Regions from separate parts of the Homo sapiens genome. Here regions 2 and 3 are each reported to be linked to region 1. Evidence: microRNA targets listed by miRTarBase, many of them from high-throughput screens and not tested one by one. Region 1 holds a microRNA gene; each other region holds the end of a gene's coding sequence.

Region 1 (4,207 bases):
CGCTCTCTCGGCTCACTGCAAACTCCACCTCCTGGGTTCACCCATTCTCCTGCCTCAGCCCCCCGAGTAGCTGGGACTACAGGTGCCCACCACCACGCCCAGCTAATTTTTTTTGTATTTTTAGTAGAGATGGGGTTTCAACGTGTTAGCCAGGATGGTCTCGATCTCCTGACCTCGTGATCCGCCGGCCTCGGCCTCCCAAAGTGCTGGGATTACAGGCATGAGCCACTGCGCCCAGCCTCGGCTGAGCATTCTTAATCCAAAAATCCCAAATCCAAAATGCTGTAATGAACATTTCCTCTGAGCATCATGTTGGTGCTCAAAACGTTTTCGATTTCAAACACTTCAGATTTCAGATTAAGGATACTCAAACCTGTATATGATTTGATAGAATTTACCCATTCTAGACTTCAGAAAGTGACCTATAACTACATGTGAAACTACTAATATTGTTTAATTTTATATATATATATATATATATATATATAAATTCTTTAAATATAATGTGCAAAAGTGCCTGTCTACCTTCAAATACTATCTAAGTGGTATTTTACTGGTTCTAATACAGTTGACCATTGAACAACCCTGTTTGTCCAGCCTGGCCTGAAAAGAAGTCTATACTTTTAAAATGTCTTCCTTTTCCTTTTAGTAGTTTGACTATTAATGTGACTAGGTATGGTTTTCTTTGTATTTATCCTGCTTAGGGTTCACTGTGGGTTAATATTTAACACCATTTTTCAAAATTCTTAGCTTCTGTCTCTTCAAATATTGCTTCTAACTCATTTTTTCTCTCCTCTTATTCTCTTATTCCAACCCCATGCATGTTTATTTTTTTTTTCACGGTTTCCACATGTCTCTTGTACTCTTCTCTGTATTTCCTAACCATTCTTCCCTCTGTGCTTCAGTTTGTTTACTTTCTACTTGTCTTCCAGCAGATAAGTGTCTTCCAGTTCACTTCAAATAATCCAATACTGAGATCTTCATTTCAGTTACTATATTTTTCAGTTCTAGAATTTCCATTTAACTCTTTTTTATTGACCCCAGGTTTCTGGTGAAATTCCCTATCATTCCTTCTATTTTCCTGGAAACATTAGACATAGTTATTTTAAGTTCCAGTATGATAACTCCAATATCTGAATCACACATAAGTCTGTTTCTATTATCTGTTTTTTTATTATTATTATGTTTCATAATTTTTGATTCAACACTGAATCCTGTAGACTAAAAATTGTGGGGGCTCTGGGTATGTTTTCTTTCTCCTATGAAGGTTACATTTTCTTCTGTCAGGTGGGGAGAAAGCACACAGATCACCTTAGTTCTGCTCTAGGCTAATTGTAGGTCAAGTCTGCTTGGAGTGAAACTGAAGCAGACCAGATCTAAAATTAGGCTAGAGCAGGCTTAGGGCTTGGCCATGTATTAATTCACCTGAGGAGCTGGGATGCTGATCAGAGCCACTTCACTTTAACAAGCGTTGAATTCCACCCTTTGTCTCCTCAGTCCTATGCTGCTGCTGACATTTTTGCTTACATTTTTGGCCTTGTGGCTTCTGCTAGATCTCTTGAAGTCTTATCCCATGTATATGAAGGCTAAAATATCATTAAGTAACTCAAGGGAAAGGTATATCCAGAGTCTGAGTTATGATTTCTATCGTTCTCTCCTGCCTGAGACTGTGTTCCTCAAGTTCTAGGCTCTTGGGCAATCACAAACCCAACCTCTGGCTCCTCAGCCCTGCAGCATTGCTGCTTTTTGCTGGCACTCTACTTCTTGTACTATGAACTGGCAAATGCCTTTGGGGGAGAAGCTAGGGTGAATATAAAGCTCTCCCTGTTGTACTTCCCTTTTCTTATTTTTTTTTTTTTTAGCTTTTATATTTGTTTTTGAGGGCAAGTGAGTCCAATACAAGCAATTCCATCATGGCCATAACCAGAAGTCTCTAGATAGTAAACTTTTATCAGAGGCTTGCAAAACAGCAAAAAACTAGTAATGTAATTAAACTTCAAGTTTAAATGATTAAATGGAACAATCTTTGCCCTTATCAGAAAATATTTTTTTTGAGAATCTCAGAAAAATTGGGTGCTTAGAATTCATCATATCTTAGTATTCAGCTTAATGGATAAATTTTTTTTATCTGTTTCTGTATTCTGAAAAATACAATCAGGTGATAATACTATTAATTTTTAAAACTATTATAAAAAAATTCAAACACAAAATTAGGTATTTATTAGTTGTAAAGCTTTGTAATATTAGAAATTAAGATTATATGTGATTCTAAAAAACCCAACTGAAAACCTAGAAAATAAAGAAAAATAGCTTTAATAAAAAAATCAATTAGTAAAGAATAATATGGAATATTTAGTTTATTAGTATAGATCAGTGTTTGGGGCTCTGTGAAGAAGAATCCATCCTTTTCTGAATAAAAATGAAAGTTATTCATATATAAAGTTGATAATTTTTTCTTTTTTGCTCCAAAACAGTCCCTAACAATGACACTGCAACATTAATGAAGAGGAAAGTCAAACTAGGGGCAGTAACTACTGAGAAACTAGAACGTAAAGGGGTAGGTAACAGAGGTACTGAAGATAAGACTTAGATATGCAATTACCTTCTAGTCCTATAGGTGGCAGGTGCTGTGGAGCTGGCACAGAGTGGTAGACGAGGAAGCAGGCCAGCATGCTCAGCTGTGATTCCTCCAAGGGCTGCCCGCTGAGGTAGGCGTGCACACACATATCACCCCCGACTGTGAGAGAAACAAATGGAACGGAACCAACTGATGACAGAACTGAGAGGCACAAGAAATATCTTCTATTACTTTTTCATCAAGAACTTATTGAACGCTCAGCATATATAAAGCAGGTTCTATAGCCGGTATTGAGGCTACTCTGACAAGCTAGACTGAGTCCCTGTCATTGTAGAGTTTAGAGTGTTGTTGGGGGAGACAGATATTACACAAATAATGACACAAACAAATGCATAATTACAAATTGTGATGAGTGCTATAAAGGTGCAGTGGTCACTGTGGTTGTCTCCCCGAAATACCCCTTGTCGCACCCTACCCTCCACCATATATTATATTTGATGGGACTGACTTCAGCTCCAGAACTAGATCCTTACTAGTCTTGGCCAGGGGTCCTCAAACTTTAACATGTGCCAGAATCACCTGGAAGGCTTGTTAAACCACAGATGAGTGGGCCCCACTCCATGCACAGAGCACAGAGATTCTTATTCAGTAGGTCTGGGGTGGGGCCAGAAAAACTCCATTTCTAACAAGTGCCCAGGTCATGCTGCTCCATAAACCACACTTTGAGAATCACTGATCTTGGGTGATCAAGGCAATCCCATTCTCCTGATGCAGTGTTAGTTCAGAGACAGGCAAACCCAGGCCATTTTTTCAATAAGAGACATTCTCTGCCACAGGGATAGATTGAGAGGTGTGCATGAGATGCAACTCGAGCCAGAAACCTGAGGAGGTACTTAATGACAAGCTTGCTGGAGGCTCCAGGGAAAGAAATTCCCTCATTCTCATCACAAAACTCCTAGAAGCAACTCTATTCTTCCTCTGAGTATCATGCTGAGCTAGAGGTGAACATGTTACAGCCATTTGATTACCATCTGAAAAATGCACTGAGGATAAAGTCATGGCACAGAATGTAGCTGATGGAACCTCAGAGAAATGGAGTTGAAGACACTGGAAAAAGATGACCCTTTACGTGCCTTACCTGCAGACCTCTAATAACATAGGCATACTTGTGTCCTTACTGTTTAAAGGCAGGTTAAGTCAGGCCTTCTGTTACTTGCAAACAAAGGCATTTTGATACAGAAAAAAGGTAGAGAGCATGAGCGGGCAGGCTAAAGATGTCAGGAAAGCTGCCTGAGGGAGAGTGGTCTTGGAAGGCCTGGGAGGAAATGCCATTAAAACTGAGGCTGCATGGATAAATATGAGTTGGGCAGGTGAAGAATGAGAGGAAAAGGTTCTAGGGAGGGAAAACAGCATATTCAATGGCCCCACAGTGAAAAGGAGCTCAGTGTTTTTGAGCAAGTGGAAGGGGCCAGGGTGGTGTGGGGAGCAAGTGGTATAAAAGAGGCTTTGTTGAGGAAAACAGGCGCCTTGCAGGTCACACAGGTCCTGGTGCCACACAGTAGGGATTTCTTTCACAGCTGAATCAGGAGCCATTGAAAAGCTTTAAGCAGGAGTGTTACATCAGTTTAT
Region 2 (4,243 bases), not on the chromosome of region 1:
AACAGCATTTCTGAGAATTATTAATCTAAAAATTATCTTTAAAGGGGGGCAGGGGGAGACTGACAACATCCATCAATAGAGAATGGATAAATTGTGATACATTCAAACACTGGAATGCTACCCAGTAATAAGGAACAGACTATGAATACAATCAACAACATAAGTGAATCTCCAAAAATTGAGCAAAAGTAAAACATAAAAAGTACATATGTGGGCCAGGTGCAGTGGCTTACGCCTGTGATCCCAGTACTTTGGGAGGCTGATGTGGGCAGATCACTTGAGGTCAGGAGTTTGAGACCAGTCTGGCTAACATGGTGAAATCCCGTCTCCACCAAAAATACAAAAGTTAGCCATGTGTGGTGGCACATGCTTGTAGTCCCATCTACTTGGGAGGCTGAGGCAGGATGATTGCTCAAACCCAGGATGCGGAGGCTGCAGTGAGCCGAGATCATGCACTCCAGCCAGGGCGACAGAGCAAGACTGTCTGAAAAAAAAAAAAAGTACATGTATGATTTATATAAATTTCTAGAAGCAAAATTATGGTGAGAGAAGTGGAATGATACTTATGAGGGGAGGGATTAATGGAAAGGGGCATAGGGAATTTTCTGAAGAAAAAGTTTTATATCTTTGTTGGGGTGTTACCAAATGTTACATCGCAAATTTTAAATCTGTGCATTTTGTTTAAATTATACCTCAATTTTGGCCAGGCATGGTGGCTCACACCTGTAATCCAAACACTTTGGGAGGCCGAGGCGGGTGGATCACAAGGTCAGGAGTTGAAGACCAGCCTGGCCAACATGGTGAAACCCCATCTCTACTAAAAATACAAAAATTAGCCAGGTGTGGTGGCCCGCACCTGTAGTCCCAGCTACTTGGGAGGCTGAGGCAGAAGAACTGCTTGAACCCAGGAGGCAGAGGCTGCAGTAAGATGAGATCGCACCACTGCACTCCAGCCTGGGTGACAGAGCGAGACTCCATCTCAAAAAAAAAAGAAAAAAAATTTTACCTCAATTTTTACAAATTTGAAGTACTATGTATCTACTGGGTCCTAAAATTAAATATAATCTACCACACATAGGAAGCATCTAATCAATCTTGTTATTAAAAACCAACACAGGACATTCAGAAAGCAGATATGAAGCTTTAATTCACCATAGGCATTTCTCCAACCATTCTGTACATTAAACTTTCATGTCTTCACACATATACATCTTTTATAAGACAGTTTTCTTAGCAATATGGTACTCTGTACCATACCAACATTCCATTTAACTAGTTAAGGGTGTATTATATAACATGAACCACTGATTAAATATAAATACAGAAGTTGAATACATAGGTTAGAAAGTTTAAATTTTAAAAAAATTTAAGAAAGGCTAAATACCATGAAAGTTTACATGTATTCTTTAATTCTAGACACCGTACAACAGTGACAACCAATTACAATAAAATCACAATTGCTTTTAGATGACAGTACTTTCAGATTTCTAATACCCAATTACTTTCATTTCCACAATGTCAACTTCATGCTGCATTTTCATTTCTATAGAGCAGACAAGCTTCCAGACTGCAGACCAAGTTTCTTGTGTAATAATACTACTATCTTGATCATGACCACAGGAAACCAATTTTATATTCCCTGTACTATAGAGATGAGACATTATTTGGTGTATATGAAACTCTTCAGTGGTGGTGTTCAAGAATATTCAAATAGTAGCTGAAAATAGGGTTTGCTAGAGCAGTCCACATATTTCATTAAAAGAAAAATGCCCAGTCAAAACATTTAGAAATAAATATATAGTACAGCCTTTCCCTCTCCCAAATACTACCCAGGAAAAAAGTTCCAAGCTGACTTAAAAAAAAAAAAACACACAAATAAAAACAAAAACACCTCAAAAAATAAACATTATATGATATTCTGAGCAGCAATCTTCCTGAGTCTATTTTCAATTGAAACAAATTCTGCAGCCAATAGTACACTGATTCAGTATCCACAGTCCAGAAGGAGTTCTTGAACATCTAGTTCATATCCCCAAAAAATGTGAAAAGACTCCTAAACACCCAAGTTATTACACAATGGGAAGCTGATATTGGCTTGTATTAAAATCCAGGTGAATATCAAACATAATCACAGCCTTAACAGTGATGCTAGAATAAGTGATGACAATATGTGCACAGCTGTATACAGATCACTATTAAACACAGGAACAAAATGCCACTTGATGCATATCAAAAAGCCAATTTGAATATATTTATTTCATTTACATTGATACAGTATTAGAAGGGACTGAATATAATTATGGAGACTGCTGCAAACATTTGATGCCACTAAGTATTCTATTAAGCATCAGGCATGCACAGTAGTTACCTTTTAAAGTTTCTCATGTATATATCTTAACACATATATCTTAAGCTACAATATGTTTAAAGCATTTAGTCATTTTAAACCCAAATATTTTAATTGACCTATGTCTAAATGGAGAAAAACAGAAACTTCCTCCTGTCTCAATACCCGATGGCAATATTAAACCTTACTCCCCAAATTGATATTTAAACTTATTTATGTCATCTTTAAAATTCCAAAAATAATGAAAAGTCTTATCATTACTAAATAAGAAGTACGATTCCCCGGCAGCAGTCTACCCACCACACACTTACGGCATGCCAAGCCTTTGGGGATTACATAAGAGTGATGTGCTGGTGGCTACAGATGACAATAATTGAAGAGATCAGTCTCTTCTTTTTATTCTGGATCTCCTTATTTTAAACTAAAGCTTTTCATTAATACAAATAAAAAAATCTTTTTTTCTTTCTTTAACTTCAATAGAAGAGTAGATAAAACTAAAAACCCTTATTGTCTCCAAGTGTGTGGCAAAATAGAAAATCTTTCAATTACATTAGGAAATCGGGTGGATAACGGAGTATAGTTATTCCACTTAAGAAGCATTCCAGTCAAATAATCACAAAAACAAATTCAGATTGCTTGGATCTTGGTCATTTATGGCTTGAAGAACTGGATTTGAAAACCACTTTAGGCTAAAATAAATGTATATGAATAATGCATAGACTGTGTATCTAGAAAATCATGCAATAAATATATGTTCTCATGTACACTGGAATCTCAGTGAAGAAAGGTGTGAACAGTACTGTTTCTTCACTTTAACCAAGAGACTACACACAGCAAGATACTTGCTTTTGGCCTATTCAAGATCTTATTTGCCAGGTCATCCTAATTTTCTCAGGTTGGTAAAAGAAGCTAATGTTTCAAGACACCTGTGATAAAGAAGTGACTTGCTTCAAGTGCAGGTGCCATGAAATCTGAGCTAGGCAGGACCAGACTCTCCTGACCCTGCCACCCTGCTGCAAAGTCAATTTGGAGTACCTGACTAGCTAGAGTATCAAAAGGGTAAATGCTTAGAATGACCAACTGGAAATGTTTATTATAGTAGTATCTTTTTAAAAAATCTGCCCTTTAAATGTATATCATTTGAGAATTGCCAGTGAAAGAGCCACTCACTATTCTTGGTTTTGATACGCCCCTACAACATGAGAATTGAACTGAACTACAATGATTGTAATGTCATCTCTGTACATTCGAGCAAGCTCTTCAGGAAGACTAAGCATTTTAGAGAGGCGCTCATGATCAACAGTCCCAAACTCGTTGTTGCCCACAGCGTGGCGAATGAGATGGGTTGCTGCGTTCTGATCCTCAAATACCGAGGACATTTTGGTTCTCCTTTCTGTTAAAAGGCCATGCATCTGTCCCAGAGTCACCTTGTAGCCACCAACAGCTATTGGCTGTTGGTGATGCATGCCAGTTAGGTACTCACCCACAATCCTAACCACATCCTGCCTATGCATAGTCTCCCACAACCCATCAGTAGCCAACACCAGAAACTTATCCTGTGGCCTTAATCGGTGGTAAGTTACCTCTGGCTCAGCAGTGAGATAAGGAGGTGTGTGATAATTAGGAGGAATAAACTTGGTATATTCATTGTCATTCAACTGGTCTGGGCCAGATTCTATCACTCTCTTTTGAAGGTCAATGCTCCATTTGAACTTTACATCTCCAAATGCCCTAAATGGCATCAGCAAGCCAAGCAGCCGATCCTGTTTCACGACACTCTTGGCCTCACTCTTTGGATGTTCCAATTTCAGCCGTTCTAGTTCTCTTTCATTTTGAGCATTGTGGTCATTAGACAGCGTGACTGCTGACCATGAGCCGTCCTCTTCCTGCACACCC
Region 3 (4,243 bases), not on the chromosome of region 1:
CACACATCACTACACTGGCTAATTTTTTCTATTTTTTAGTGGAGATTGGGTTTCACCATGTTGACCAGGCTAGTCTTGAATTCCTGACCTCAAGTGATCCACCAGCCTTGGCCTCCCCAAAGTGGTGGGATTGTAGGTGTGAGCTGCCACACCCAGTTTTTTTGTTTTTTTTGTTTGAGACAGTCTTGCTCTGTTGCCCAGGCTGGAGTGTGCAGTGGCACAGTCTCAGCTCACTGCAACCTCTGCCCCCGGGGTTCAAGTGATCCTCCAGCCTGGGCCTCCCAAGTAGCTGAGATTACAAGTGTGCACCACCAGGCCCATCTAGTTTTTGTATTTTTAGTAGAGACAGGGTTTCACCGGGTTGGCCAGAACTTCTGACCTCAGGTGATCCACCTGCCTCGGCCTCCCAGAGTGCTGGGATTACAGGTGTGAGCCACTGCGCCCGGCTTTTATCTTTACATCGAACCAAAGAGGATGCCAAGGATCTTCACTGGCTCTCACATAAGACGGCCATGATCAGGTACTGGCTCACTGCATGGCCCAGGCTGCTGCTTTCTCTGATACAACCTCCCCGAGCCTCCTCACCTCAGCTTTTTAAATTTTTTTTCAGACAGGGTCTCACCCCGTGGCCCAGGCTGGACTTGCGATCACAGCTGGCTGCAGCCTCAACCTCCTGGGCTCAAGCGATCCCAGGAGCTGTGGGTAAATCGAGTGAACTGCACTGTGTTGAAGGTGCAGGATTGGAGTCCGGGTGCTGGGGGACTCACCCTCTCGCTCCTGGAGTCCAGAAGCCAGGACACCTTGGTCACTGTCCTGTGGCCTGCTTCACCCCAGGGCCCTCCTTCAGAAATTAGTTGGAGTTTTTTTTAGTAACTGCTCAAGTCAGCTATGAGTCACTGACCAAAGGACAAAGTGGTGCTGAACAGTGACTGCCAGGCTCCTATCTGAGGCTCAGAGAGCACTTGTTCTAGACGCTTTCTGTTGTCACAGGGAAAGACAGCTCAAGCAGGAACACAGGCAGTGTGTCACCCCCAGGCCTCACTCCTTGCTGCACCTGTGCAGTCTGGCCTTCCTGGGCTTTGTCCTTCACCTGCTGTTTGACCACATGTACCTGTCCACAAAGCAGTGACTGTGGGGCAGTCGCAGGGCTGACAGGTGCGGCAGAGGCAGAAGAGGCACCCAAGGGCGGCGGGGCCGTCAAACACTGACGCACTCTCCTCCTCCCCCAGATGTTAGCACTTTAAGAAACTTATCGAGGAGCCAAGGTTGGGAGGGATCGGCTGGGGAAGTGGGATCCCCACCTTTAAATGGACCATGCACATACACGTAAAACAGTGATATCTTGGAGACAAGTTATCAAATCCCCCCACACTGAGCAGATGCCAGACAACAGTTGAGTGCGCAGGAAGGACACACCAGGACCAGGCAGTTGCTTCAGGCGCTTTTATTAGGTTCCACTGCAGGGCTGGGGTCAATGTAATGCAAATCCAAGCCCAGTGATGCACACCTGTGAGCCGAAACAGAGCCGAAGCAGGAGCACCTGTGTCCCAGGAGCAGCTGGTTGGAGGGAGCCAGGGCCAGGCCCCACCTCCTCTCGGGACCAGGAGACTGGCAGCCGCTGTGTTCACCTGGGCAGGTGTGCACCCAGTCACCCCCACTGGATTATGGTGCTGGTAGCATGAGAGGGTGTGTCCACACCAAGGGCAGGTGAAGATGCGAGGTGGGGCTGAGACCTCCTTCCCACAAGAGGAGGTGGCTGAGCCTCCCAGGGCCTGAACTCTCACAGCAGGGCTCACCCCCAAGCCTGTATGCTTAGCTCTGACTCTCTTTGGACAATAAAATAAAGTGCATTACTGAACAAAGAGTAACTCAAAACCAGAATCAGACAAATCGCCAATGCTTTTCCTTTAGCTAAAAGACAAAAGAAAACATGAATGATGTGAATGCCGGAACTTCAGAGTAAGGGAAATGCTGGTGGAGGACAACGGAAACTATAATAGCGTGGTGGATAAGGACGAGCGAGTGGGAGAGGAACTGGCAACGCGGCTCTCTCTAGAAGTCCGTGCTGTCCAGCCTCTGCCCAGTGGTGGGGGAAGGCCTTGGACTCACAGGGAAGCAATGCAGGAAGCCTTGGCCACCTAGGCTCACAGCTCATCTCAGGACCAGAGGAGACAGCAGAGGACAAAACTTCAGTGTGACAGCTGCTAGGAGGGAGAGCAGACAGCCCGCGGTGGGCAAGCTGGGAGTTGCATCCGCAGCAGTCCGCTTCAACCCAGCTCCTCTCCACCCTTCCTGACCCTCCACAATAGCTCTGCCGTGACCAGACCCAACCCAACTGGCCCCTGGTCCCAAGAGCAGATGAGCTGCTTGGGCCTTCCACTTGGTGTCCCATGCCAGGCGGACCTGGAGGTGTCAGCCATGGCCCTGACCACTTCAGAAGCCAACAGGCAAATGTTCTCTGTTCATAGTGCCAAGAATGTGGGTCACGTGGGCTTACCCCCCAGGATGGACACAGAAGTCCCTAAGCAGTCTGCAGCTGGGCCAGCCTCTCCCGTGGGTGCAGAGCAGCCCAGATGTGGCCATCATTAAGGCAAAGAAGCATCGAGATGCCCACCACTCCCCGGGTAAGAGCCATGCCCCGGCCTGGCCACGCCACAGAGGAACGCAGAGCACACAAGCAGGACCCCACCACGTGCTGTTCCAGATCGCCCAGTCTCCCTCTATTGGTACACTATCAATTGTGCAGTGCCCCAGGGAGGTCCCAAATGGCCCTCACAAGAGGCACAGCCCCTAACGCCCTCAGCCAGGCGGTGCAGTGGGACGAAGCAGCGTATTGGGGAGGGCCAGAGCATCGGCACCGGTGACCCAGCTCTCCCACCCAGGCCATCGCAGGGCAGCCTCAGGGCAGGCGCCACCACTGCTCCTGCTCAGCCCGCAGTATCTGCAGTTGCTGCAGCTGTGTGGCTTGGTAGAAAAGTCTCAGGCACTGAGGTTTACTTCAAGGGAGAACTGACTGGTGCCCCCGTCCACACTCATCACCCTGGACACAACCTCGGGGGCTTCACTAAAGGAGGGAAGGATGTGGAAACTAGTCTCTCTCACTCCCCTTTTGTGCAGTTTTTATCTTAAAAAAAAATAAATAAAAGTCTTCTGGGCAGGAATTACTGATAACTGTTATTATAACCAATGCAGACTTTAAAATCCCACCTGGACATCGGGTGAGAGGAGGAGGGCAGGCAGCAAACCGACCTGCAGACCTGCAGAGGGGAGCCGTGTCCAGGGCCACTGCGTCCCCACCAGACAACAGCTACTAGAAGAGGAAAGTGGCCCTCACAGGCAGGGTGCCTGCCACCAAGCAGTCAGACAAGGGGGTAACCAAGAGCTCCCAGCCAGAAAAACATGGGGGCAGGGAGGCCAAACAAAAAGCACTGAAAATAAAGAGAAGGCTGGGTGGTGGCAGCATCGGCCCCTCCCTGTGCGCCCCAATTCCAGGTGCCACGTAGAGGCGAGAGGTCTTTCCAACACGGCGGGGGACTTGTCAACAGGATTAGGCGTGAGGAGCCGCTCTGCGTTTCCAGTCTGGAGACTGCATTCAGCCTGCAGAATACCAGCCGTGGCGCCCGCTCTCCAGGGAGGAACGTGCTGAGAAGCTTCAGTGGGTCAGGGAGCCCAGGACAGCCAGCCCCTTGTTCCTCCAGGGCTGCCCACTATGGGGCAGTTACAGGGAACACACTCAGCAACGCTTCTGGCTTCAGGAAGGGCTGGGCTGGGCCCGGTCCTAGCCAGCAGAGGGCAGGCGCCCTAGGTCCTGGGGAGGCTGCACATCTCGCAGTGGCCTGTGCCTGGCTGGTTCATGAACGTGCAGTGCTGACAGGCCCACATGGCTGCAGTGGCCGTGTGTGTGGAGCCCCCGACGGCGCCGTACTCATGGAGACCTGGGAGCTGCCCGCCAACTGTGCCTGCAGGGTGGAAGAGAAATGAGCACTCATCATTTCTGGCCCACCAGAGACTGCCAGAGTGTGGGCATGGGGGCAGGGGCAGGCAGCTGAGAGCTCCCCGCCCCCAACATCCCACCCAGTGCTGGTCCTGCCCACACAGCACTCCCACCACAGGCACACTTTGAAGTGCTTAATGCCCTCAGAAAAATGCCTCCTGCACCACAGGGAGTAACAGGGAGCCTGTGCTTGCTGGTTCCTTTTTGTTGCAGAGGGTGCTTCTCCTTGTGAATAACGTAACTCCCCGG

The links. The annotated mature microRNA hsa-miR-4771 reads AGCAGACUUGACCUACAAUUA and lies in region 1 at 1,330-1,350, opposite strand. An mRNA with a match to its seed (bases 2 to 7 or 8) in the 3' UTR can be bound and repressed. Matches are read on the target gene's strand: a 7mer-m8 pairs with bases 2 to 8, a 7mer-A1 pairs with bases 2 to 7 and ends in A, and an 8mer does both.
Region 2: miRTarBase lists PDP1 as a target of hsa-miR-4771. Seed matches in the 3' UTR shown: 7mer-A1 at 1,569-1,575.
Region 3: miRTarBase lists NPLOC4 as a target of hsa-miR-4771. Seed matches in the 3' UTR shown: 7mer-A1 at 3,251-3,257 and 8mer at 3,188-3,195.

Annotation. Positions count from the first base shown.
Region 1 is chr2:87,191,973-87,196,179 of GRCh38, reverse strand. MIR4771-1 (microRNA 4771-1) reads right to left here and starts at 1,394; the gene lies at 1,321-1,394. It also overlaps the pseudogene LOC102724642.
Region 2 is chr8:93,922,947-93,927,189 of GRCh38, reverse strand. PDP1 (pyruvate dehydrogenase phosphatase catalytic subunit 1) reads right to left here. Exons shown (of 2, transcript NM_018444.4): 2 at 1,122-4,243. The coding sequence ends at 3,517. Among named protein-coding and RNA genes, the nearest start is that of PDP1, 8.1 kb to the right of the region's middle.
Region 3 is chr17:81,555,458-81,559,700 of GRCh38, forward strand. NPLOC4 (NPL4 homolog, ubiquitin recognition factor) reads right to left here. Exons shown (of 17, transcript NM_017921.4): 17 at 1,430-3,959. The coding sequence ends at 3,802. It overlaps LOC124904085 (a long non-coding RNA gene), which reads left to right. Exons shown (of 2, transcript XR_007065947.1): 2 at 1-1,862. Among named protein-coding and RNA genes, the nearest start is that of FAAP100, 5.2 kb to the left of the region's middle. RefSeq lists enhancers at 3,254-3,755, 3,756-4,243.